6 linked regions of the Homo sapiens genome follow. The protein of the gene in region 2 purifies or fractionates together with the protein of the main gene of each other region. This does not show direct contact. Each region holds a gene or a part of one and is shown on either strand. Other genes may lie near its edges.

Evidence for each region.
Region 1: the proteins of AKAP12 (region 2) and TRAP1 purify together in Homo sapiens (affinity purification with mass spectrometry; one large-scale study listed by BioGRID and IntAct). This does not show direct contact.
Region 3: the proteins of AKAP12 (region 2) and PPP4R3A fractionate together in Homo sapiens (co-fractionation; one large-scale study listed by BioGRID). This does not show direct contact.
Region 4: the proteins of AKAP12 (region 2) and PRKAR2A purify together in Homo sapiens (affinity purification with western blotting; 2 studies listed by BioGRID and IntAct, with this or other methods). This does not show direct contact.
Region 5: the proteins of AKAP12 (region 2) and ACADM purify together in Homo sapiens (affinity purification with mass spectrometry; one large-scale study listed by BioGRID and IntAct). This does not show direct contact.
Region 6: the proteins of AKAP12 (region 2) and ORC4 purify together in Homo sapiens (affinity purification with mass spectrometry; one large-scale study listed by BioGRID and IntAct). This does not show direct contact.

The regions. Positions count from the first base shown.
Region 1 is NC_000016.10:3,710,967-3,714,822, reverse strand, and holds part of TRAP1 (heat shock protein 75 kDa, mitochondrial isoform 1 precursor), read left to right. Parts: intron 1-3,856.
Region 2 is NC_000006.12:151,242,692-151,246,547, reverse strand, and holds part of AKAP12 (A-kinase anchor protein 12), read right to left. Parts: intron 1-3,856. UniProt on the Homo sapiens protein: Anchoring protein that mediates the subcellular compartmentation of protein kinase A (PKA) and protein kinase C (PKC).
Region 3 is NC_000014.9:91,479,311-91,482,810, forward strand, and holds part of PPP4R3A (serine/threonine-protein phosphatase 4 regulatory subunit 3A), read right to left. Parts: intron 2,884-3,500; coding exon 2,266-2,883; intron 1-2,265. UniProt on the Homo sapiens protein: Regulatory subunit of serine/threonine-protein phosphatase 4. May regulate the activity of PPP4C at centrosomal microtubule organizing centers.
Region 4 is NC_000003.12:48,837,519-48,841,374, forward strand, and holds part of PRKAR2A (cAMP-dependent protein kinase type II-alpha regulatory subunit), read right to left. Parts: intron 1-3,856. UniProt on the Homo sapiens protein: Regulatory subunit of the cAMP-dependent protein kinases involved in cAMP signaling in cells. Type II regulatory chains mediate membrane association by binding to anchoring proteins, including the MAP2 kinase.
Region 5 is NC_000001.11:75,734,709-75,738,564, reverse strand, and holds part of ACADM (medium-chain specific acyl-CoA dehydrogenase, mitochondrial isoform a precursor), read right to left. Parts: intron 3,775-3,856; coding exon 3,694-3,774; intron 1-3,693. UniProt on the Homo sapiens protein: Medium-chain specific acyl-CoA dehydrogenase is one of the acyl-CoA dehydrogenases that catalyze the first step of mitochondrial fatty acid beta-oxidation, an aerobic process breaking down fatty acids into acetyl-CoA and allowing the production of energy from fats.
Region 6 is NC_000002.12:147,951,192-147,955,047, forward strand, and holds part of ORC4 (origin recognition complex subunit 4), read right to left. Parts: intron 1,334-3,856; coding exon 1,182-1,333; intron 1-1,181. UniProt on the Homo sapiens protein: Component of the origin recognition complex (ORC) that binds origins of replication. DNA-binding is ATP-dependent. The specific DNA sequences that define origins of replication have not been identified yet.

The sequences.
Region 1 (3,856 bases), on a different chromosome or scaffold from region 2:
CCTGGCTTCAGGTGTGCGTGTCTTATGTCTGTGGAATCCTCTCGCCCATGCTACGCTGCCTCAGTCACCCATGAGCTCAGCCCTCTTACCCTTTCAGACCTCACTGACCCCTGACACTGCCAGCCCTGTCACTTGCCCTCAGAATATCTTATTTGATTTTTTTTGAGCCGGAGTCTTGCTCTGTTGCCCAGGCTGGAGTGCAGTGGTGCAACCTCAGCTCACCACACCCTCCGCCTCCTGGGTTCGAGTGATTCTCCTGACTTCGCCTCCCACGTAGCTGGGACTACAGGCGCATGCCACCACACCCAGCTAGGTTTTGTATTTTTAATAGAGATGGGGTTTCACTATGCTGGCCAGGGTGGTCTCGAACTCCTGACCTCATGATCCACTAGCCTTGGCCTCCCAAAATGCTGGGATTACAGGCGTGAGCCACTGCGCCTGGCCTACCCTCAGAATATTTCTGTGAGGGGTGGGCTAGGATATCCGCTTGTGGACTTTATATTTGTCATTTTTGCCCATAACAGTTTATTCAGCAAATACATTTCCAATGCCCCCGAGTCGTCAAAGAAAATGTGACCCTGCTGTCTGGAGTCATAGGTGGCTGCTGAGCAGTGTACCAGGGCCATCTTGGTGGCCTGGACAGCACATTAGAGAAACAAGAGCTGCTTGCCCCAGGGTAAGTTTCACAGATGAGGAGCGATTTGGGCCGAGTGTCCAAGGCTGTTTTCACTGGAGGGGAGGGAGGAACGTTCCATGTCTGGAAAGCTGCAGGTGCAAGGGTAAGGAGATAGCTCTGAATAATTGGTTTGATGAAAGACTTGCGGGAGTGTGCAGGAGTGATGGTGAATGAGGCTAGCAGTTGTGTCTTTTCTGTCAGATATAAGCTTGTGCGTAGGAGCCTCATCCTGCATTCCTCAGGACAGTCACAGAGCCAGCCCTGGGCCTGGTGTGTGGGGAGCCCAGCCACGTGGCCCACCATGAGAGCTTTTCGTCAGAGCTCCAACTGTCAGAAGTGTCAGATGTGCCAGTAGAAGGATGAGGCCGCCTCCTAAAGGAGAGGGAAGACCTGGAAAGATCAACAGCAGACGCAGTCTCCCAAAGCAAACGTGATTCTGTGGTCAGGCAGGTACGGTGACGGGTTGGTCATTTTGCATGACGAGGTGACTGCCACAATCACCAAGGGTGCCGAGTCCAGTCTCCTGGTCATGCCAGATGCTCTTGTTTTCGTGAAATTGCCAGAACATGACTGAGGCAACCACGATAGGACTGGTTGGTGCAGGCGTTAAGATCTTGGGCCTTTTTGTTCTCTGTAAGCTGGAGCCTTTGCTGGAACTTCCTGTCTTGGAAATCAGAGTTGTGAGAGTAGGTCCCCTGCCAGCACCAGGAAGGTCGGGAGAGCTGGTTTCCTCACTTTGCTCAGGGCTCAAGTACTAGCTAGTTTGTTTCATCTTCCAAAAAGAGCCTCACCTGGACCCCGCTCCTGTAGGTGGTGCCTGCCTGCTGCGCCCTCCCCTTCAGTACTTCGTTTTGTTGACGGGTTTTGCCTCCTCCCTCTGCTCTCCCTTTGTTTGGAGCCTGTGCTGTTTGATTTCCGTGTCTTGTGTGCTGCACCCTTCAGGAGAATTCAGGTGAATTTCTGGTGCTCTCCGGCTGTTCTTTTCAGAGTGGAGGGGAGTAGTACTTGCTGGTCAGTTGCGACTCTGTCTGTGAAACAGCTCTTTGTGTTGCTGAGATGACGCTAGAGGTGTAGCGTCCATGACATGTTTGTCGTCTGATTAAGCTGTGGTGCTGGCACTTAGACGGCAGAGGAAGGTGTGGCCCAGCTGTCCAAGGCCACCAGGAGGACCTTCAGCTTAGTTAGGACCAAGGGAACTGAGTTATCTGAGTGCCTGAAAAAGAACACATCAGGCCGGGCGCGGTGGCTCTCGTCTGTAATCCCAGCACTTTGGGAGGCCGAGGTGGGTGGATCACTTGAGTTCAGGAATTTGAGACCAACCTGGCCAACATGGCGAAACCCCGTCTCTACTAAAAATACAAAGAAATTAGCCAGGGTGGTGGCAGGCGCCTGTAATCCCAGATACTTGGGAGGCTGAGGCACGAGAATTGCTTGAACCTGGGAGGTGGAGGTTGGAGGTTGCAGTGAGCCAAGATTGTGCCACTGCACTCCCTCCTGGGCGACAGTGCAAGACTCTGTCTTGGAAACAAACACATCAATCCGAATGTAAGAGATTAGCAAAGCGTTTATTGGTTACTGGGTGAGTAGTTGGCCTAAGCTAAGACAAAAGAGGAATCTCCAAGTATTTTGCTACCCCTTGGCAGGAAGAGAGGGAATGCAGCTTGCGGGGTGGGGATGGGGGTGTCAGGTTGATAAGAAAACTGTGGGAAAATAAACATTTACTCCTGCCCCCCATGTCAGTAAATACCATGTGACAAAGGTGAGTTCCATGAAAGAGGCTGTTACTGAGGCCTGTGATACTTGCTTGTCTCAAAATGCTGACATATCTTTTTTTTTTTTTTTTTTTTTTTTTTTTTTTTTTGAGACAGATTCTTTCTGTCGCCAGGCTGAAGTGCAGTGGCATGACCTCAGCTCACTGCAACTTCCGCCTCCTGAATTCAGGCAGTTCTCCTGCCTCAGCCTCCTGAGTAGCTGGGACTACAGGTGCATGCCACCATGGCCAGCCAATTTTTGTATTTTTAGTAGAGACGAGGTTTCACCGTGTTGGGCAAGATGGTCTCAATCTTTTGACCTTTTGATCTGCCTGCTTTGGCCTCCCAAAGTGCTGGGATTACAGACATGAGCTACCACGTCGGGCCTGACAAAGAATCTTGATAGCGATTGAAAATGTATCCATTCATACTCAAATGAAGTAAAAAGTGCTTTTGGGTTCAAAGCCAGAGAATGTTCATGGATGGCGTTTTTGGTGCCTCAAGTGTAGCCAGCTAGAACTTTTCTTACCACCGTCCTGCTTAGTCCTACTGAAGACCTGCCTTCTACTAGGAAGCTGCTCTTAGTCCACAAAGTGGCTTCCCTGTAGTTCCACAGCATTTAACAAAATAGATTTCAGGGAGTTTATTTGTGGTGTGGCTGGTTATTTCTGCTAAAACCACTAGGAATTACCATAAAAGCTGTAGCTTGGAGAAACAGTATCTACTTGCGGGAGTATTACTGCCACCTGTGTTTTTTTTGTTTTTGTTTTGGTTTTTGTTTTTTTTTTGTTTTTTTCAAGATGGAGTCTTGCTCTGTTTCCCAGGCTGGAGTGCAGTGGCACGAACTCGGCTCACTGCAATCTCCACCTCCCGGGTTCAAGCAGTTCTCCTGCCTCAGCCTCCCAAGTAGCTGGGGCTACAGGCATGCACTACCGTGCCCGGCTAATTTTTGTATTTTTAGTTGAGGTAGAGTTTCACCATGTTGGCCAGGCTGGTCTTGAACTTCTGACCTTGTGATCTGCCTGCCTCGGCCTCCCAAAGTGCTGGGATTACAGGTGTGCGCCACCGTTCCCAGCCCTGCCATTGGCTTTTTAACCAGGTGAATTCCTGTAGATTGGGTAGATTGAAAGGACATGTAGCTGAATCATTGGTTTTAAAAGGAATGGCTCAGTTACTTCATAGCCATATAATTAAGAAATGTGGCTAGAAGGTAAAAAATTGGCCAGGCCTGGTAGCTCATGCTTGTAATCCCAGCACTTTGGGGGCTGCGGCGGGAGGATCCTGTGAGTTTAGGAGTTTGAGACCAGCCTGGGCAACCTAGAGAGACCCCCATCTCTACCAAAAAACCCTTTTTTTTTTTTTTCCAATTAGCTGGGTGTGCCTGTGGTCCCAGCTACCCAAGAGGCTGAAGTGGGAGGCTCCCTTAAGC
Region 2 (3,856 bases):
TACCCATGAAGGCAAAGCATGGGAAAACGAGTGCTGATCTCCACGGTGGAACTGCAAAGTGGTAGAACCTCTTTGGAAAGTCAATTTAGGAAGGGTTAAATTTTTTGTTTTTGTTTTTGTTTTTGTTTTTGAGACGGAGTCTTGCACTGTCACCCAGGCTGGAATGCAGTGGTGAGATCTCAGCTCACTGCAACCTCCCCCTCCCAGGTTCAAGAGATTCTCCTGCCTCAGCTTCCCAAGTAGCTGGGATTACAGGCACCTGCCACCACACCCAGCTAATTTTTTGTGTTTTTAGTAGAGACGAGGTTTCGCCATGTTGGCCAGGCTGGTCTCGAACTCCTGACCTTGTGATTCACCTGCCTCGGCCTCCCAAAGTGCTGGGATTACAGGCGTGAGCCACCGCACCTTGCCGGGTTAAATTTTTAAATGCATATAAAGCTTGCAATTCAGCAATTACACTTATGGACGAGGACAATCTAAATATAAACCCAAGGAATTGGTTAAATCGTTACAGGGCTTCAACCCACAAAAGGGAAATTTATGCACCCAAATTAATAAGAATGGGGGCAGTTATTTATGTCCTGATATGAAAAGACATCCAAAACCTAAATCTATATGTGATATGATCTTTTTCTTAAATGGAAAAGACTGTGCCATTTTTATCTACTTTCATGTGCATGAAGTTTTCGAAAGAATATGTAAGAAGCCATCATATTGGCTTCAAATTTTACTTAAATTTGTGAGTAATTTACCCTACTTATAAATTTAAGTTCTCAATCATTAATTTTTTTAAAAAATAAACATTAAATGAATATTGCTATGCAATGACTTTAAATAAAAATCATTAATAAGGGTAAACACATGCTTTTGATTTTTTTTTTTTTTTTTTTTGAGACGGAGTCTCTCTCTGTCGCCCAGGCTGGACTGCAGTGGTGACTGCAGTGGTGCCATCTCGGCTCCCTGCAAGCTCCACCTCCCGGGTTCACGCCATTCTCCTGCCTTAGCCGGGTGGATCACGAGGTCAGGAGTTTGAGACCAGCCTGGCCAACATGGTGAAACCCCATCTCTACTAAAAATACAGAAACTTAGCTGGGCGTGGTGGTGGGTGCCTGTAATCCCAGCGACTCGGAAAGCTGAGGCAGGAGAATCGCTTGAACCTGGGAGGCAAAGGTTGCAGTGAGCCAAAAAAAAGAATTCGGTTCAAGGAAATTTAGTTGCTTTTTTTTTTTTCAAGAGATAAACGTACTGGCTTAATTTTTCTTAGAATGCTTAGTGCTATAAATTCTAATTTCTAACTTCGCATGAATGGCTACTGCATATAGAATTATAGAGATGGGGGATGATGCCATTTAGTTTGAGTTTTCCTGCACTGGTGTTCTTTAAGCACTGAATATGTATTAAAACTAACTAAGACAAAGGAAAATAAATAATTTATTAGCATTTTTAAAAACAAAACATTTTATTTCCATTTTGTTAATTATCTTACAAGATCCAAACTAGAATAATCTTATAATGTCAGCTTAAAGCTGTAAAGGCATAGAAATTAGTCAACCCAAAGAGGATGCACATTTCAAGGCCTTTTCTTCATAGAAGGAAATATTTCAAGAGAAAATCTCCACTTATCTTATTCATCCACTAGCCTATAAGCTGTAATGGATTTAAAGGAAGCCCTGCGATTCCTGCAGTCTATCGGTACCCAAAAGAATCATCCCCACATCCATATCTCCAATTTTTGGTCTCTGTTCTGATCAGAAATTAGCAGCTCTTATAATCTGGTAAAAATCCACAGGAATACAAGTAGCCACACACAGAGAAACATCCCTCTATTAAGAAACATATAATTCTTGCCTTAAATTCTGGCCCATTTTTGTAACACTGGTGATGTAGTCACTTTGAGGCCATCTTCGTTCTCCATTTCCATTGCTAAACAAGTGGCAAATAGGAGGAAGCTTATGGGAGGAATTATGAAATGCAGCTGGCCGCCTCAATTGTCTGGTTTTGTTTGTTTGTTTGTTTGTTTCTTTGAGACAGAGTCTCGCTCTGTTGCCCAGATTGGAGTGCAGTGGCGCCAACTCGGCTCATTGCAAACTCCGCTTCCCGAGTTCACGCCATTCTCCTGTCCCAGCCTCCCGAGTGGCTGGGACTACAGGCGCCCGCCACCACGCCTGGCTAATTTTTTGTATTTTTAGTAGAGATGGGGTTTCACCGTGTTAGCCAGGATGGTCTGGATCTCCTGACTTTGTGATCTGCCTGCCTCAGCCTCCCAAAGTGCTGGGATTACAGGCGTGAGCCACCGCACCCGGCCAATTGTCTGTTTTAATGCACGAGGGTCAAACACATCCTTAAATTTACCAGTCAGACAACGGACTCTTCTATTCGAGTACATCTTTATGTTTTGGTGATTCAAGGCTCTTGTAATCAAATGGAGCTAACAAGAGCCCCCATCTCCCCACCTGCCAGAGACAATGGCCTCACCCTGTTGCAACAGACCATTGTTCAATGTCCAGCATTGAAATCATTCATCAGGCAATACATATAGAAAGGCTAATTAATTGATTGTCCAGACTTAGTCTGGAGCCTGGCTCCAGAAATCAAGATTAGCCAGAGACATGGAAGTCAGTTTGTCACTGGTCACCCCACCCTCTGTTGCCACCTGAATATGTTGCCACCTTAATATTTTTTTAAGACAAATTTTTAAAAACAGACAATTAAGGAATAATGTGAAGTGTGAGGCTTTACTTACCACCAGCATTCAGGTCATCTAATCTTCCCGCACCCTGCAGTTGTGAAACGGCCATGTCTCAAAATTAAACCCTGGCAGATAACAGACCAAGCCATTCCCCCTGCCCCCGCCTGGATCTTACATATAAAGACTGTAAAAGATTTCCAGTCTATCTCTGGATCTAACGGAAAAAATAAAGATTACAAAAGATTGAATAGAAGATAAAGACTCCTTCCATTTTACAGAAATGAACCATAGATAAAACCAAGACTTCTGCTTTAGTGCATCTAAACGTTAAGCCTGAGTAATCAAAAGCTTGTTTAACTCTCCATTTGACCTAATACAAGTGATAATTCAACCAGTGTAATGTCTGTTCAGATAAGGGCACTTAGTGAATAACTGGTAACTAAAACTAGCAGAAAAAAAGGAAAGTAAATCCAATTGCTAAATAGATAGCATGCATGTGATATAAATGTCAGCTATTAGATAGAAAAAGATCTGCCTACAACCTTTAATTAATGACCACATTCTATCCAAGGAGGGAAAAATGATGTATTAGCCTAAACCTCCCCAACCGTCCACAGACACATCAAGGAAGTTCAAGATGTAATCCTAAGTAACTCAGGGTATGAAATGGACTCATTTGAGCCATATGCACTTCATATATTTGTCTATTTAAGATAAAACGCAATTTGAAATTGCAATGCTAACAAGTCACTCTATATCTAGAGAAACAGAATCCAAAGCCCCCAAATCTGAAGTTTTTGGTCAAACTATTCACTTGATCTATTAATAACCGAACAGACTGACTTGCCTTAGTCACTATCATAATCAGTCTCACGTGATAATGAAATGATCAAGGGTTAAATTGTAGTAAAATCAGATAGGTCAAGGTATTCTCCAACTTGATATTTTCCAATCAAAACCAAGGAGCCAATATCACCCCTTCCTCTTTCCACAAGTATTCCTGAGAGCTGCCTCTGTGCCAGGCAACATGGCACGCATGAAGGAACACCGTTGGTCGGCACAACCAGGCGTGTTCCCTGCCCCTGCGAAGTATTCACAACAGCAAGAACACTAAACCCACACATGTGAAAACTGCTGGGACGGGTCCATGGTGCCACGGAGCCTAGA
Region 3 (3,500 bases), on a different chromosome or scaffold from region 2:
TGTGTGTGTGTGTGTGTGTATGGGTGCAAATAACAATTCTTTCTTTGTACTACACAAACTTATTTTTTTGTTGTTGAGATAGGGTCTCACTCTGTTGCTCAGGCTTGAGTGCGGTGGCATGATCATTGCTCACTGCAGACTCAAACTCCTGGGCTCAAGCGATTCTCCCAACTCAGCCTCCCACATGGCTGGGATTATAGGCATGCATCACCATACCTGGCTAATTTAAAAAAAAAAAAAAATCTTTTTTGAGACAGAATTTCACTCCTGTTGCCCAGGCTAGAGTGCAATGGTGTGATCTCAGCTCACTGCAACCTCCGCCTCCCAGATTCAAATGATTCTCTCGTCTCAGCCTCCCGAGTCTGGGATTACAGGCGTCCACCATCACGTTTAGCTAATTGTTGTATTTTTAGTAGAGACGGGGTTTCGCCATGTTGGCCAGGCTGGTCTTGAACTCTTGACCTCAGGTGATCCACCCGCCTTGGCCTCCCAAAGTGCTGGGATTGTAGGCGTGAGCTACCGCATCCAGCCCCAGGCTAGTCTTTAACTTCTGGGTTCAATCGATCCTCCTGCCTTGGCTTCCCAAAGTGGTGGGATTACAGGTATAAGCCACTAGGCCCAGCCTATGTAAACTTCTATTTCAGTTAGAATAGACCAATTCACACACTGGGATGACACAGTAAGAGCTTTTCTAATTTTGGGGGTGTTACAAACGCAAATTATTGTCTAGCTCTCAGAGACTTTGACTCAGGTTTTGTGCAGAATTCATGATACTGCACCCTAGGGGACTGTGATGCAAATACCCTAAAACACCAGATCAGAGAGATTGGGCATACTATAAGAAAAAAAAATCTACATTTTAATAAGCAATTATCAATAGACACTTAAAAAATTCCCATGAATCTTACATCATATTAAACACTTTCTTTACATGCCTGACCTCAGTTAATTTTCAGACAACTTTACAGGGTAGGCATTAATGTCACCATCCTTCAGATGGGGAAACCGAAGCTTTAAGAAGTTAAGGCTGCCCAACTCACATAGCTACTGTTATTAAGTGACAGACGGAGCTGAAACTCAAATTCACATGGGTTTAACTCACCCACAGGCACACCCCTTAGCAAAACGTGGCTTTTGGTAGGGATACATGCAGTTATAATTTGCCTCCTCTGCTACATTCCCTAGACCCTGAAACTGGACTTTTACCGTATCATTATCTGGGAATTTTACAAATTCGTTTTAAATTTTATTTTTTTGGTAGAGACAGGCCATAGCGCCTGGCCCACAATTCTCATTAGAATTTATATTCTGTGTTTGGTGACATTTCTCTTGGCTTTGTGCTTCACTCTTTCCTCTTCCAATCTGTTCTATTCTATGCAAAATTCATAGAGTAATAACCCCAAAGTTCAGCATTCAACCATTTCATTAATATTATCCTCCTATAGTTGAGTATGGTGGCTCACAACTGTAATCCCAACACTTTGCAAGGCTAAGGTGGGAGAATTGCTTGAAGCCAGGAGTTTGAGACCAGCCTGGGCAACAAAGTGAGATCCATTCTTTACAAAAAAATTTTTAAAAGGTGGCTATGGTAGCATGCATCTGTAGTCTTAGCTAATTGGAAGGCTGAGGTGGGAGGACGGCTCAAGCCCAGGAGTTCAAGGTTGCAATAAGCTATGGCTGTGCCACTGCACTCCAGCCTGGGCAACAGAGCAAGACCTCAACTTAAAAAAAAAAAAATCAGGCTGGGCCCAGTGGCTCACACCTGTAATCCCAGCACTTTGGGAGGCCAGGGCAGGCAGATTGCTTGAGCTCAGAGGTTTGAGGCCAGCCTGGGCAGTATGACAAACTCCATCTCTACAAAAAATACAAAAATTGGCTGGGGGTGGTGGTGCACACCTGTGGTCCCAGCTACTCAGGAGGCTGCAGTGGGAGGATTGTTTCAGCCAGGGAAGCGAAGGTGGAGGTTGCAGTCGCTGAGACTGCATTATTGCCCTACAGCCTGGGTGACAGAGCAAGACCCTGTATCCAAAAAATCATCCCCTCATACCATTTCTTCAAACTACATTTGTCACACTTACCTCTCCTACCCCAGATAGAGTAACCTTCTGGTCTCGTATTATTATTGTATATTATAATCTCTTAAAATAACTCACAATACTTAACTTTATACATTAACAAAATTAAAACTCAATGTATGTATTTAAAAGGAGCAAATTGTTTTCGCTGCATCTCTTGAAATATGAAAAAAGGAATGATCTAACTCACCTGCAACATGCCAACAATCTCTACCTTATTGAAAAAGATAAAAGAGTGAAGTGTTGATAACATGTTTTCTTCAAAGACCGAAGGAGTTGGTAGAACCATATCTTGTATATACTGAACTCTGTATGTCTGATGAATTTTTTGTTTCAGCTCAGGATCTGATATGGGAATCACTTCTTTAAACTTGGCTGTTTTTGTTAGAAATTCCCTGTGTTTTCGTGGTTGTGATAAAGCAGGATCATATTCTAAACATCCAATGACGTCCATTATACATTCTTCAGAGAACATAACTTCAAAAAGAGCAGTTCGATTCAAGAGAAAGATGCCTTTGATAATTTCATACAAGTGGTGCAGTCCTTCAATATTTTCCAAATCTTCACACACATGAAAAAGCTCCAGGAGCTTTTTAATATAACCCTCATTTTCTAGTGCCAGTGCAAGTTTTTCACGACGAAGAGGTGAAGGTAAAGATGATGCCACAAGTTCTGCAATTTCTTCAAGGCGACTTAATTCACAAGATGGCAATTCTAAGCCTGGCGATGACATATCATCAAAACGCTCCTCTTCAGATTCATCCACAAGGTCCTGAGTGATGTCCACGGAAGGGTCCTTTCCTTGAACCTATGAAAAAAAATTTAATTGCTGACAAAATAGATAACAGGTGACCAGCAAACCTAAATGCTACTCTAAGATGAATACTAGAAATGTTGTAAGAAACCTATAATGGTCATTTTCAAGACAAAACTGCCTACTTTTCTACATTACATTTCTCCAAATATGTATACTTTCAATTTTAAGGAAGTTAGTCAAAGTTCAAAAACAGAATGAGCTTCCCTATAAAGTATGAGGTCTGCTGGCAAGAACAACTTTCTAGGACAGGCTAAACTAAGTGAGACTGTTACGAAACAGCCCTCTGCAGACCCACAACATAGAAGCCTGATGCTAAAACAGCCACTAACATCTCATATCCCTGGCCCTCTTTTCCAGCAGACCAAGGCAAGTCTCAGAAACAGTCCTAGGACTGTGCTAAAGGACACTGCCACCACCAAACTCTTCAATATTTAACTCTGAGGTGAAGACCAAATAAACACCAAATATCATAATGTTATGATCACAGAAAATATATATAATTATAAGCAAAAAGGAAAATATTTAACATCAATTGATTGTAGAAACCAAGGGCCAAAGAGCATGAACAAACTGGCTTTGGACCAAAGTGAGTCACTGATCTTCTATAA
Region 4 (3,856 bases), on a different chromosome or scaffold from region 2:
CCACTTTGGAAAACAGACTGGCAATTCCTCAAAAGGTTAAACAGAGCTACTATATGGCCCAGCAATTCTACTCCTATGAGAAATGAAAACAGCTCCACACAGAACTTGTACACACAAATATTCGTAGCAGCATTATTCATAATAGTCAAAGAGTGGGAACAATCTATATGTCCATCAACATATGAATGGATAAATGGTATATCCAGAAATGAATGGTATTTCCAGACAACAGAATAGTATTTAGCAATAAAAAGAAATGAAGTTTATTTAGAACAAGTGGAAAAAGGAAAAAAAAAAAAAAAGTACTGATACATGCTTACAACATGGATGAACCTTGAGTACATTATGCTAAGTGCCAGCGGCAAAAGACCACATATTGGCTGGGCACGGTGGCTAACGCCTGGAATCCCAGCACTTTGGGAGGCTGAGGCAGGCGGATCACAAGGTCAGGAGATCGAGACCATCCTGGCTAACACAGGGAAACCCCATCTCCACTAAAAATACAAAAAATTAGCCGGGTGTGGTGGCGGGCGCCTGTAGTCCCAGCTACTCGGGAGGCTGAGGCAGGAGAATGGCGTGAACCCAGGAGGCGGAGCTTGCAGTGAGCTGAGATCACGCCACTGCACTCCAGCCTGGGCGACAGAGCAAGACTCCGCTCAAAAAAAAACAACAACAACACATATTATATGATTCCATTTATATGAAATATGCAGGATAGGCAAATGGTAGAGACAAAAGTAGATTAGAGGATGCCTAGGGATGAGGGGAATGAGGGTGTTGGTGAGGTGATGACTAAAGTGTATGGTGACCGGGCGCAGTGGCTCACACCTGTAATCCCAGCACTTTGGGAGGCCGTGGTGGACAGATCACCTGAGGTTGGGAGTTCGAGACCAGCCTGGCCATCATGGTGAAACCCCATCTCTACTAAAAATACAAAAATTAGCTGGGCATGGTGGCACATGCCGGTAATCCCAGCTACTTAGGAGACTGAGGCACAAGAATTGCTTGAACCCAGGAGGGAGAGATTGTAGTGAGCTGAGATCTCACCACTGCACTCCAGCCTGAGCAACAGAGAGAGACTCCATCTTTAAAAAAAAAAAAGAAAAAAGAAAAGAAAAACAAAACAGTATATGGGACTTTTTTTGGAGTGAGGAAAAATGTTCTAAAAATTGTTATGGCGCCAGGCGCGATGGCTCATGCCTGTAATCTCAGCACTTTGGGAGGCCGAGGCAGGCGGATCACGAGGTCAGGAGATCGAGACCATCCCGGCTAACACGGTGAAACCCTGTCTCTACTAAAAAAAAAAATACAAAAAATTAGCTAGGCATGGTGGTGGGCGCCTGTAGTCCCAGCTACTCGGGAGGCTGAGGCAGAAGAATGGCACGAACCTGGGAGGTGGAGCTTGCAGTCAGCCGAGATCGCGCCACTGCACTCCAGCCTGGGCGACAGAGCAAGACTCCGTCTCAAAAAAAAAAATTGTTATGGTTGGTCAGGTGCAGTGGCTCATGCCTGTAATCCCAACACTTTGGGAGGCCGAGGCAGACAGATCACCTGAGGTCAGGAGTTCAAGACCAGCCTGGCCAACATGATGAAACCCCATCTCTACTAAAAACACAAACATTAGCCGGGCGTGGTGACACGCGCCTGTAATCCTGGCTACTCGGGAGGCTGGGGCAGGAGAATTGCTTCAACCCGGGAGGCAGAGGTTGCAGTGAGCCAAGATCACATCATTGCATTCCAGCCTGGACAACAAGAGCAAAATTCCGTCTAAAAAAAAAAAAAAAATTATTATGGTGACGGCTGCACACAGATATGAAAAACCAATTATACATTCTAAATAGTTGACTTGTATGTGAAGCATATCTCTATAAAGCTGTTACCTAAAAAAAAAAAAAAAAAATGCTGAGAGACCGGCAAGTATAAATGCTTTATGGTAATTACAGAAGTGAAACAATTCTGAATGTCGATTTATTGTTTGTATGCAGCTACAGTAATTTATTAATAAGTTTATACTCTTCAGGCATCTCTCAACATTAAATACGCATTATAATACTTTATACTTTGAAGTTATGTCCTGTTTGATATTAAAGCTGTTATTAAAATAACAGCTAGTAAGTTTTTTGACTCTTTCCAATAGGATACAATTTTATAAACTGAATTGGTGGTTAGTCACAAGGACCTCACTAAGCAAAGCTTCCTTGCTATATACAGTTATTACATATGATACTTCTTGTTCTTTTTTTTATTGGCTCTGGAGTTGAAACATATCCTATTTCTAATTTAAGTAGTGTAGACTTATTCTAATGTCATTGGGTATACAATTCATTTTTTCTTCCTTTTTAAATTGTGGTAAGATGTACATAAAATGTGCCACTTCACCATTTTAAGTGTACAATTCAGTGTCATTAAGTACATACATTGTGCAACCATCACCATTATCCAACTTCAGAACTTTTTCATTATCCCAAACTGAAACTCTGTACCTATTAAACAATAACACCCTATTACACCTTCCCCCAAGCCCTCGGTTAGCTCTCTTCTACTTTCTGTCCCTATGAATTTAGCTACTCTGGTTACCTTCTGTAAGTGGAATCATACATTATTTGTCCTTTTGTATCTGGCTCATTTCATTTAGGATAATATTTTCAATGCTGTAACATGAATAAGAATTTCATTCCTTCTTAAGGATGGTCAGGTATGGTGGCTCATGCCTGTAATCCCATCACTTTGGGAAGTCGAGGCGGGACGGGTGGATCACCTGAGGTTGGGAGTTTGAGACCAGCCTGGCTAACATGGTGAAACCCCGTCTCTACTAAAAATACAAAAACTAGCCAGGCATGGTGGCACACGCCTGTAATCCCAGCTACTCGGGAGGCTGAGGCAAGTGAACTGCTTGAACCCAGGAGGTGGAGGTTGCAGTGAGCAGGATCGTGCCACTGCACTCCAGCCTGGGAGACAGAGCAACACTCGGTCTTATGTATATATATACCATATTTTGTTTATCCATTCATTTATGGATGTATACCTGGATACCTGGTTTGTTTTCACCTTTTTTTTTTTTTTTTTTTTTTTTTTTGAGACGGAGTCTCACTCTCTCGCCCAGGCTGGAGTGCAGTGGCACAATCTCGGCTCACTGCAAGCTCTGCCTCCTGGGTTCACGCCATTCTCCTGCCTCAGCCTCCCGAGTAGCTGGGACTACAGGCACCCGCCACCACGCCCGGCTTATATTTTGTATTTTTAGTAGAGACGGAATTTCACTGTGTTAGCCAGGATGGTCTCAATCTCCTGACCTCGTGATCCGCCCACCTCGGCCTCCCAAAGTGCTGGGATTACAGGCATGAGCCACAGGGCCTGGCCCACCTTTTTTTTTTTTTTTTTTTTTGAGACAGTTTCGCTCTTGTTGCCCAGGCTGGAGTGCAATGGCGTGATCTCCGCTCACTGAAACCTCCACCTCCTGGGTTCAAAAGATTCTCCTGCCTCAGCCTCCCGAGTAGCTGGGATTACAGGCGCACACCACCACACCCAGCTAATTTTTTTTTTTTAATTTAGTAGAGATGGGGTTTTACCATATTAGTCAGGCTGGTCTCAAACTCCTGACCTCAGGTGATCCGCCCGCCTCGGCCCCCCAGTGCTGGGATTACAGGCACGTGCCATGTTTTCACCTTTTGACTACTGTAAATAATGCTGCAATGAGCACTGGAGTATAACTATCTGTTTAACTCCCTGCTTAAAATTATTTTGGGTAGGCCGGGAACGGTGGCTCACACCTGTAATCCCAGCACTTTGGGAGGCTGAGGCAGGCAGATCACAAGGTCAGGAGTTTGAGACCAGCCTGGTCAATATGGTGAAACACCAT
Region 5 (3,856 bases), on a different chromosome or scaffold from region 2:
TAAGCATATATAGGGGCACTAGAAATGATTACTTAGGGCCGGGCGTGGTGGCTGAGGCTTCAGGTTTGTAATCCCAGCACTTTGGGAGGCCGAGGCAGGTGGGTCACCTGAGGTTAGGAGTTCGAGACCAGCCTGGCCAACATGGTGAAACCCTGTCTCTACTAAAAATACAAAAACTTAGCCAGGCTTGGTGGCGGGCGCCTGTAATCCCAGCTACTTGGGAGGCTGAGGAAGAATTGCTTGAACCTGGGAGGTGGAGGTTGCAGTGAGCCGAGATGGTGCCACTGCACTCCAGCCTAGGCAACAGAGCGAGACTCCATTTCAGAAAAAAAAAATAATAACAATACTTGGCTGGGCATGGTGGCTCACACCTGTAATTCCAGCACATTGGGAGGCCAAGGTGGGCAGATCATGAGGTCAGGAGATAGAGACCATCCTGGCTAACACAGTGAAATCTTGTCTCTACTAAACATACAAAAAATTAGGCAGGCGTGGTGGCACGCACCTGTAGTCCCAGCTGCTTGGGAGGCTGAGGCAGGAGAATCGCTTGAACCTGGGAGGCAGAGGTTGCAGTGGGCCAAGATCACACCACTGCACTCCGACCTGGGCAACAGAGCGAGACTCCGTCTCAAAAAATAAATAAATAAATAAATATAACTATACTCAAACATCTGAAGGGCAATATAGCCAAAGAAAAGTACAGTGAAATCACTCTAACATTTATTGAACACCTATTACAGTATGAACTGGTAAAATTATAAAAAAAAAAATGACAGGTTCTGTGCTTAAGCATTATGTAATCCAAAATATTTTTCTAATGATAACAGATGCTCGCAAATGATGCTGTTTCAGAAGGTGTTGATTCCCAGGCACCTGAGGTATAAAAACATGTCAGCCAGATGGTCTTTTGACAGGGATTCTGTAGAGGGGATTCAGGTGTCACTCAAGTTAACTGAACTAGATTACTCTGCTACCTGGAGATTTGATGTATTCAGCATCATGACAAATTAAGGAGTTGTCCATAAAAGATGCCCCTTTTAAGTACCAAAATTTTGTTTTAACCACCTTTAAGGTATTTTTTTCCCTGAAATATGCTATTAGACATCTGTCTGTTTCATAATACAGTGAAGTTTTTAGAGCCTGTGAAGTAAATGAGCCTGTTTTTTTCTATACAAAATGGCTTGTCACTACTGGTTCCTCAGAGTTGTTTTTGTCTTCTTTTCTTCTTTTTGGTTTCATATATATATATATATATATATATATATATATATATATATATATATATTTGTGTGTGTGTGTGGTGGCAGTCTCTCAACGTTGTCCAGGCTGGTCTTGAACTCCTGGCCTCAAGCGATCCTCCTGCCTTGGCTTCCCAAAGTGTTAAGATTACAGGCATGAGCCACCATGCCTGGCCTGTTCTTGGCTTCTTATTTGATCATTTTTATTTATTTTTTTTCTGTATTATTTTTTACCATAACATTATTTTCCAAAGTAAAAACCCAAGGAGTTTAAACATTCAACAGTACAGAAAAGTGAAACAATTTATAGCATATCCATTAGATAGCAAATTATGCAGTATTGTTACAGCATGTAAAAAGAAGGAAGGCATAAGAAAATGTTCATGTTGTTAAATAAAGATGTACATAAAACTACATGTATATAATGGGGGCTAACTGTTAAAAACACAATTACATATTTAAAAATGTGGTAGGCACTACAATAAGGAAGTAATACTAATTAACTCCATATCTGAGGGATTACAGATATTTTTGTTCTACTTAAAACATTTCTAAATTTTCTATACTCAGTATTTTATAATTAGAAAAGTTATAAAATTTTAATTTTTTAAAAGTTTGCCTTTGGCATCCACGAATTTTGGAATTTAACCAACTGTGGAGCAAAACCCACAGATACAAAGGGCTAACTGTACATTTTGTATAACAGACTTGGCAACCAAAAATTTTGATATGGAGGGCAACCTGTCCTAAACTATTCCCTCATGGATATGGAGAGCTGACTGTATATGCTACAGGAGAACAATCTAGACGTTTCACACAGTTCTTATAGACAATAGTGAGAATGTTTAGCTAACCTCTCAATTGTTAAAAAAAATTGCAAATTTCCTAGCAAATATGTACAAATTCCTTTATTAAACAGTTTGCTTGAAATTTTAGGTATCTGAAATAAAAAACATTTATTTTCAAATATTATTTTCTGTTCTTTAAGATGAATTCTCATCATTAGCTCAAAACTAATACATCTACTGTATTTCAGTATAACAACCACACCTTAGATTGAAATATGTTTGAGTAAACAAGAAGTAAAAATCCTTAGGTAAACAACAGTTTCAGAATAGAGCGTGTGTGTGTGTGTGTGTGTGTGTGTGTGTGTATGTCTGTGTGTGTATTTATCTTGTTAAAAAAATCTAATTTAAAAATTTGTTGAGTTGCTTTCAGAGGTTTAAATAAACTCTACAACTATTCTTCCCAAGTCATTCAGTCATTCAACAAATAAGTTGCTATTTCTTCAGTTACAGGTTCACATTAATTTTTATTTATTTATTCATTTATTTATTTATTTAGAGACAGGGTCTCACTGTGTTACCCAGGCTGGTCTTGAACTCCCGGGCTCAAGCAGTTCTCCTGCCTTAGCCTCTCAAAGTGCTGACATTACAGGTGTGAGCCACTATGCCCAGCCCACATTAATTGCTTTTTTTTTTTTTTGAGACAGAGTCTCACTCTGTTGCCCAGGCTGGAGTGCAGTGCCGCCATCTTTACTCAGCAACCTCTGCCTCCCAGGTTCAAGAGATTCTCATGCCTCAGCCTCCCAAGTAGCTGGCAAGCGCCACCACATCCAGCTAATTTTTGTATTTTTAGTAGAGATGGGGTTTCTCCATTTTGGCTAGGCTGGTCTCGAACTCCTAACCTCAGGTGATCCACCTGCCTCAGACTCTCAAAGTGCTGGGATTACAGGCGTGAGCCACCACGACCAGCCAACATTAATTTTTTACTAATTCAAAACACTACTAGTTCAAACACACATTGCCCTACATTCAATCTGAACTTCCTGACACAATGACTCAGTTCTTAAAGTGTAGAATGCTCCACTAAATAGAGCTCTCTCTCCTGAAGTAAGAGGATTATTATGACACTTTTTGACATCCCAAAAACATCACAAGTAGATCTCTCTTCTCCTGGAAATAAGCAACAAAATTATGATGACACCTTTTTTTTTTTTTTTTTTTTGAGACAGGGTCTCACTCACTCTGTCGCCCAGGTAGCAGTGCAGTGGTGTGATCTCTGCTCACTGCATCTTCCACTTTTCGGGTTCAAGCGATTCTTATGCCTCAGCCTCCTGAGCAGCTGGGATTATAGGCAGGCGCCATCACGCCTGGTTAATTTTTGTATTTTCAGTAGAGATGGGGTTTCACCACGTTAGCCAGGCTGTGAACTCCTAACCTCAAGTAATCTGCCCGCCTCCGCCTCCCAAAGTGCTGGGATTACAGGTGCGAGCCATTGCCCTCGGCCTATTATGATACTTTCTTGGCATCCTTGACACATCATTGTAATAATATGTTGCTAAGTTTTGTTTCAATGCTAAATATCCCAATATATACATATAGACTGAAAAGGAGAAATAGCACCTTTGTTCCCTTCTTAAGTGTGAAATAAAGCGGCAGTTACACATACTCACACACATCAATGGCTCCTCAGTCATTCTCCCCAAATACTTCTTCTTTTGTTGATCATTTCCAGCAATAATAATAGGCATTTGCTACCGAAGAAAATTGACATTAAAAAATCAAGTCATTTTTATTGGATATGTAAATTCAGAGATGCTATAATTCAAAATGAAA
Region 6 (3,856 bases), on a different chromosome or scaffold from region 2:
AAAAGAAAAAGGGTTGTAGGAAAGGAGATGTGAACATGTAAATGTGCCTGACACATCTGCCGAGAATGGAGGGGGAAGAGGATTGCAAGAAAGCTATGGAGGCATGGCAGTCATAGCATGAGAAAAGAGACAACTTTGCTATGGTTTGGATATGGTTTGTCCCCACCAAATCTCATGTTGAAATTTAATTGCCAGTGCAACAGTGGGAAGTCACTGGAGTGGACCCTCATAAATAGATTTAATGCCTTCTTACTGGAGTGAGTTCTTGTTCTCATGGGGATAGATTAGTTCTTGAGACAGTGAGTTGTTATAAATTGAGGTTCCAACTCCTATCTGGTTCGTTTTTGCACATTTCGGTTCCCCATTTGACCTTCCACCATGTCATGCAGCATGAAAACCCTTGCAACAAAGCCAGTGCCATGCGCTTGAATTTTTCAGCCTGCAGAACTGTGAGATAAATAAACTTCTTTTCTTTAAAAATTACCAAGTCTCAGGTATTATGTTATAGCAACACAAAATGGGCCAAGGCACTCTTCAATACCAGTTTTATCTGAATTCAGTAAGTTAATACTACATGCGTGTAAGAAGGTAAACACAAAAAGGCCTGTACTGCTGTCCAAAGGTACACATGGTTCAATATGTACAGAGCCTTCACAAGGCAAAGTGATAGTGATATTGAGACTATAGTTAAAATCATTCTAAAATATCCCATGGAATGAAGAAGCCACTATCTACTGTCAGTGCTTGGTAGAATCTTTTCCATTTCTGGAGATGTGTACTTTGAAAGTTGGAATAGTATTACTTAGAGTTGATTTCAAGCCTTTTCAAAATATGGAAAAAAATCTTAAAATAAAAACTATTACCAAGTTTTCTCAAATATTGGTGAGATTTAACCGCCTCATTACTTGATAATGTAGAAATTATATTTATTAGCATAATCTGATTTCATACTTTTTTCTTCAGTAATTTCACTGGGAGGAGGGAGGTATTCATTAATGGGCTAAGGTAACTACTAAACTGTTTTCCTCAATTTGAGTTGAAAGCAGGATAAATACACCAGGCACTGCTGAAACAAAATTTTTAAAATGACCTAAATAAGTGAAAAAAACTAGCAGTGTCAGCAATTAAGCTTGAATTTTAAAATATTATAATCAATTTTTTTAATGAACAGAAAGACTTACCAATCTACATGTAAGACCAATAACTGCTATTGGGGTCTGTGCAGACTGAGAAATGTCAAAAAGATTATAGAGAAGTGTTTGGTTTTTATGATGAGCAAAAAGATCAAATTCATCTAATATGAAGATCACTGGGCAACTGCTAGTTCGGTCACCTAAGATAAAATAAGAGCATTACATTAATAAGAAATTATATCCACCTTTCCTAAATTTCCAAACCATTTACTATATTTCAGTTTTTAAAACTCAATTCTGTAAACATTCTGATAGCCTACTTTGGGTAGGGGATTTACTGATGCATATACGTTCATTCAACAGAAAAAAATTATTCAAAGGACAAACACAGCCCCGACTGCTCTCAAGAAGTTCAGTCTAGGCTGGGCGTGGTGGCTCATGCCTGTAATCCCAGCACTTTGGGAGGCTGAGGTGGGTGGATCACCTGAGGTCGGGAGTTCGAGACCAGCCTGACAAACATGGAGAAATCCCATCTCTACTAAAAATACAAAATTAGTCAGGTGTGGTGGCGCATGCCTGTAATCCCAGCTACTCGGGAGGCTGAGGCAGGAGAATTGCTTGAACCCAGGAGGCAGAGGTTGTGGTGAGCCAAGATCGTGCCACTGCACTCCAGCCTGGGCAACGAGAGTGAAACTCCATCTCAAAAAAAAAAAGTTCAGTCTAGGCCGGGCATGGTGACTCACGCTTGTAATCCCAGCACTTTGGGAGGCCGAGGTAGGTGGATCACCTAAGGTCAGGGGTTTGAGACCAGCCTGGCCAACATGGTAAAACCCCATCTCTGCTATTAAAAAAAAAAAAAAAAATTAGCTACTTGGGAGGCTGAGGCAGGAGAATCTCTTGAACTGCGGAGGCAGAGGTTGCAGTGAGCTGAGATCACACCATTGTATTCTAGCCTGGGCAACAAGAGTGAAACTCCATCTCCAAAAAATAAAAAGTGCAGTCTAGTTCCTAGACTCTAGTAGAGTTTGTTGTTGAAAAATGTCAAAAATCATTTAAATGACTAAAGACTATTATTTTTATAATTACGTAAATATAATTCTTATTTAATGATTATAAAATTGACAGAGTTTTCTATACCTACACAGAACCAAAACACTTTAAGATTAAAATATAAGGGGAGTCACTAATTAATGAACAAAACTAATGCTTTAAAAGAGAGTTGTTTATTTAGTAGAAATACAAGGTACATTTCTTGTAGAAATACTTTTTATAAACAAACTTGTAGATTATAAAGTTCAACTAAAGCCACTTAAACTCCCTTGAAGCACAACTTTTAGCATTTCAACTACAATGCTTTTCATGGGGAAAGTTCCACATCACCCTCTGGTTACATTTTTCTCACTTCAATAATGGAAACAACTTTAGTAAAAGAATCCCTTTTACCTTAGGCTTAACGCCTTTATATTTGTGTTAAAAAGTGAAACAAATATCTGATAAAAGAAAGACTTATTTCAACAAATAACAAATACAGTAGCCTAAATGACTTAATACTGGTACAAAACCAAAGGGATTACTCAAAAGTCTAGAAAGAGACTTATGTACTAATATAGAATTTTAGTATTTGATAAAATATTGCATTATACATCAGTGGGGAAAATTAGTCTATTCAAAGTCAGATCCCTACTTTACAGGTAAAATCAGAATAAATTCCAAACAAATTATAAATTACAAATATATATATATATTAAATAAAAAGATGGATCAATGAATGTTTTTATAATCTGAAGGAGAGAAAAAACTTTCTAGATAAACTTAACTATGTGGAAAACATAAAACTTTAGATCAGCAGAAAAGTCCAAACCAAACTTAAGGGAAGAGAAAAATAAAACACAAAAATTCCGATAAATAAGCATAACATAAACATTACCACAATAGGTCAAAGACCCAACAGGAAATACAGTCGTGTGTCCCTTAATGACAGAGATACGTTCTGAGAAATGTATTGTTAGGTGACTGCATCGTTGTACAAGCATCCTAACAGTGTACTTACCCAAGCCTAGATGGTATAGCCTACTAGACACCTAGGCTATATGGCATAGCCTATTGCTCCTAGGCTATGAACCTATGAGCATGTGATAGTGTAGACAACTGTAACACAATGCGAAGTATTTGTGTATCTAAACATATCTAAACACAGGAAAGGTACAGTAAAAATATGGTTTTATAATCTAATAGGACCACTGTCACATATGTGGTCTATCATTGAATTAAAGGTTGTTATGTGGCACATGACTGTACATAAACCAGGAAATTTCAAAGGTCAATAAAAATATGAAATGACAAGCATCACCACTATCAGAATTATGCAAATTAAGTAACCAGAATTATGCAAATTAAAGAACAAAATTATTCAAATTAAACTAAGAGCTGAAAGTTTTTCTATTATATGGGCAAACATAAAAATAATAATTGTTTTTGAGGTTGTGAAGAAAAAGGTATTATCAAATATTTTTACAAATTAAACCTTTAGGGTAGTTTTTAAATGTTAAAGATGGTGCCTTTTAACCCAGAATTCTACCCACAGAAATTTATCCCAGGAAATATCTGGATGATCATCAAAGTATCTCTTCTTAATTATAAAAAATTAGAAACAAAAGCCCATAATTGGTGATTAATAAATAGCACCTTATAAAACAAGAACCATAAAAATGATGATGCAGATC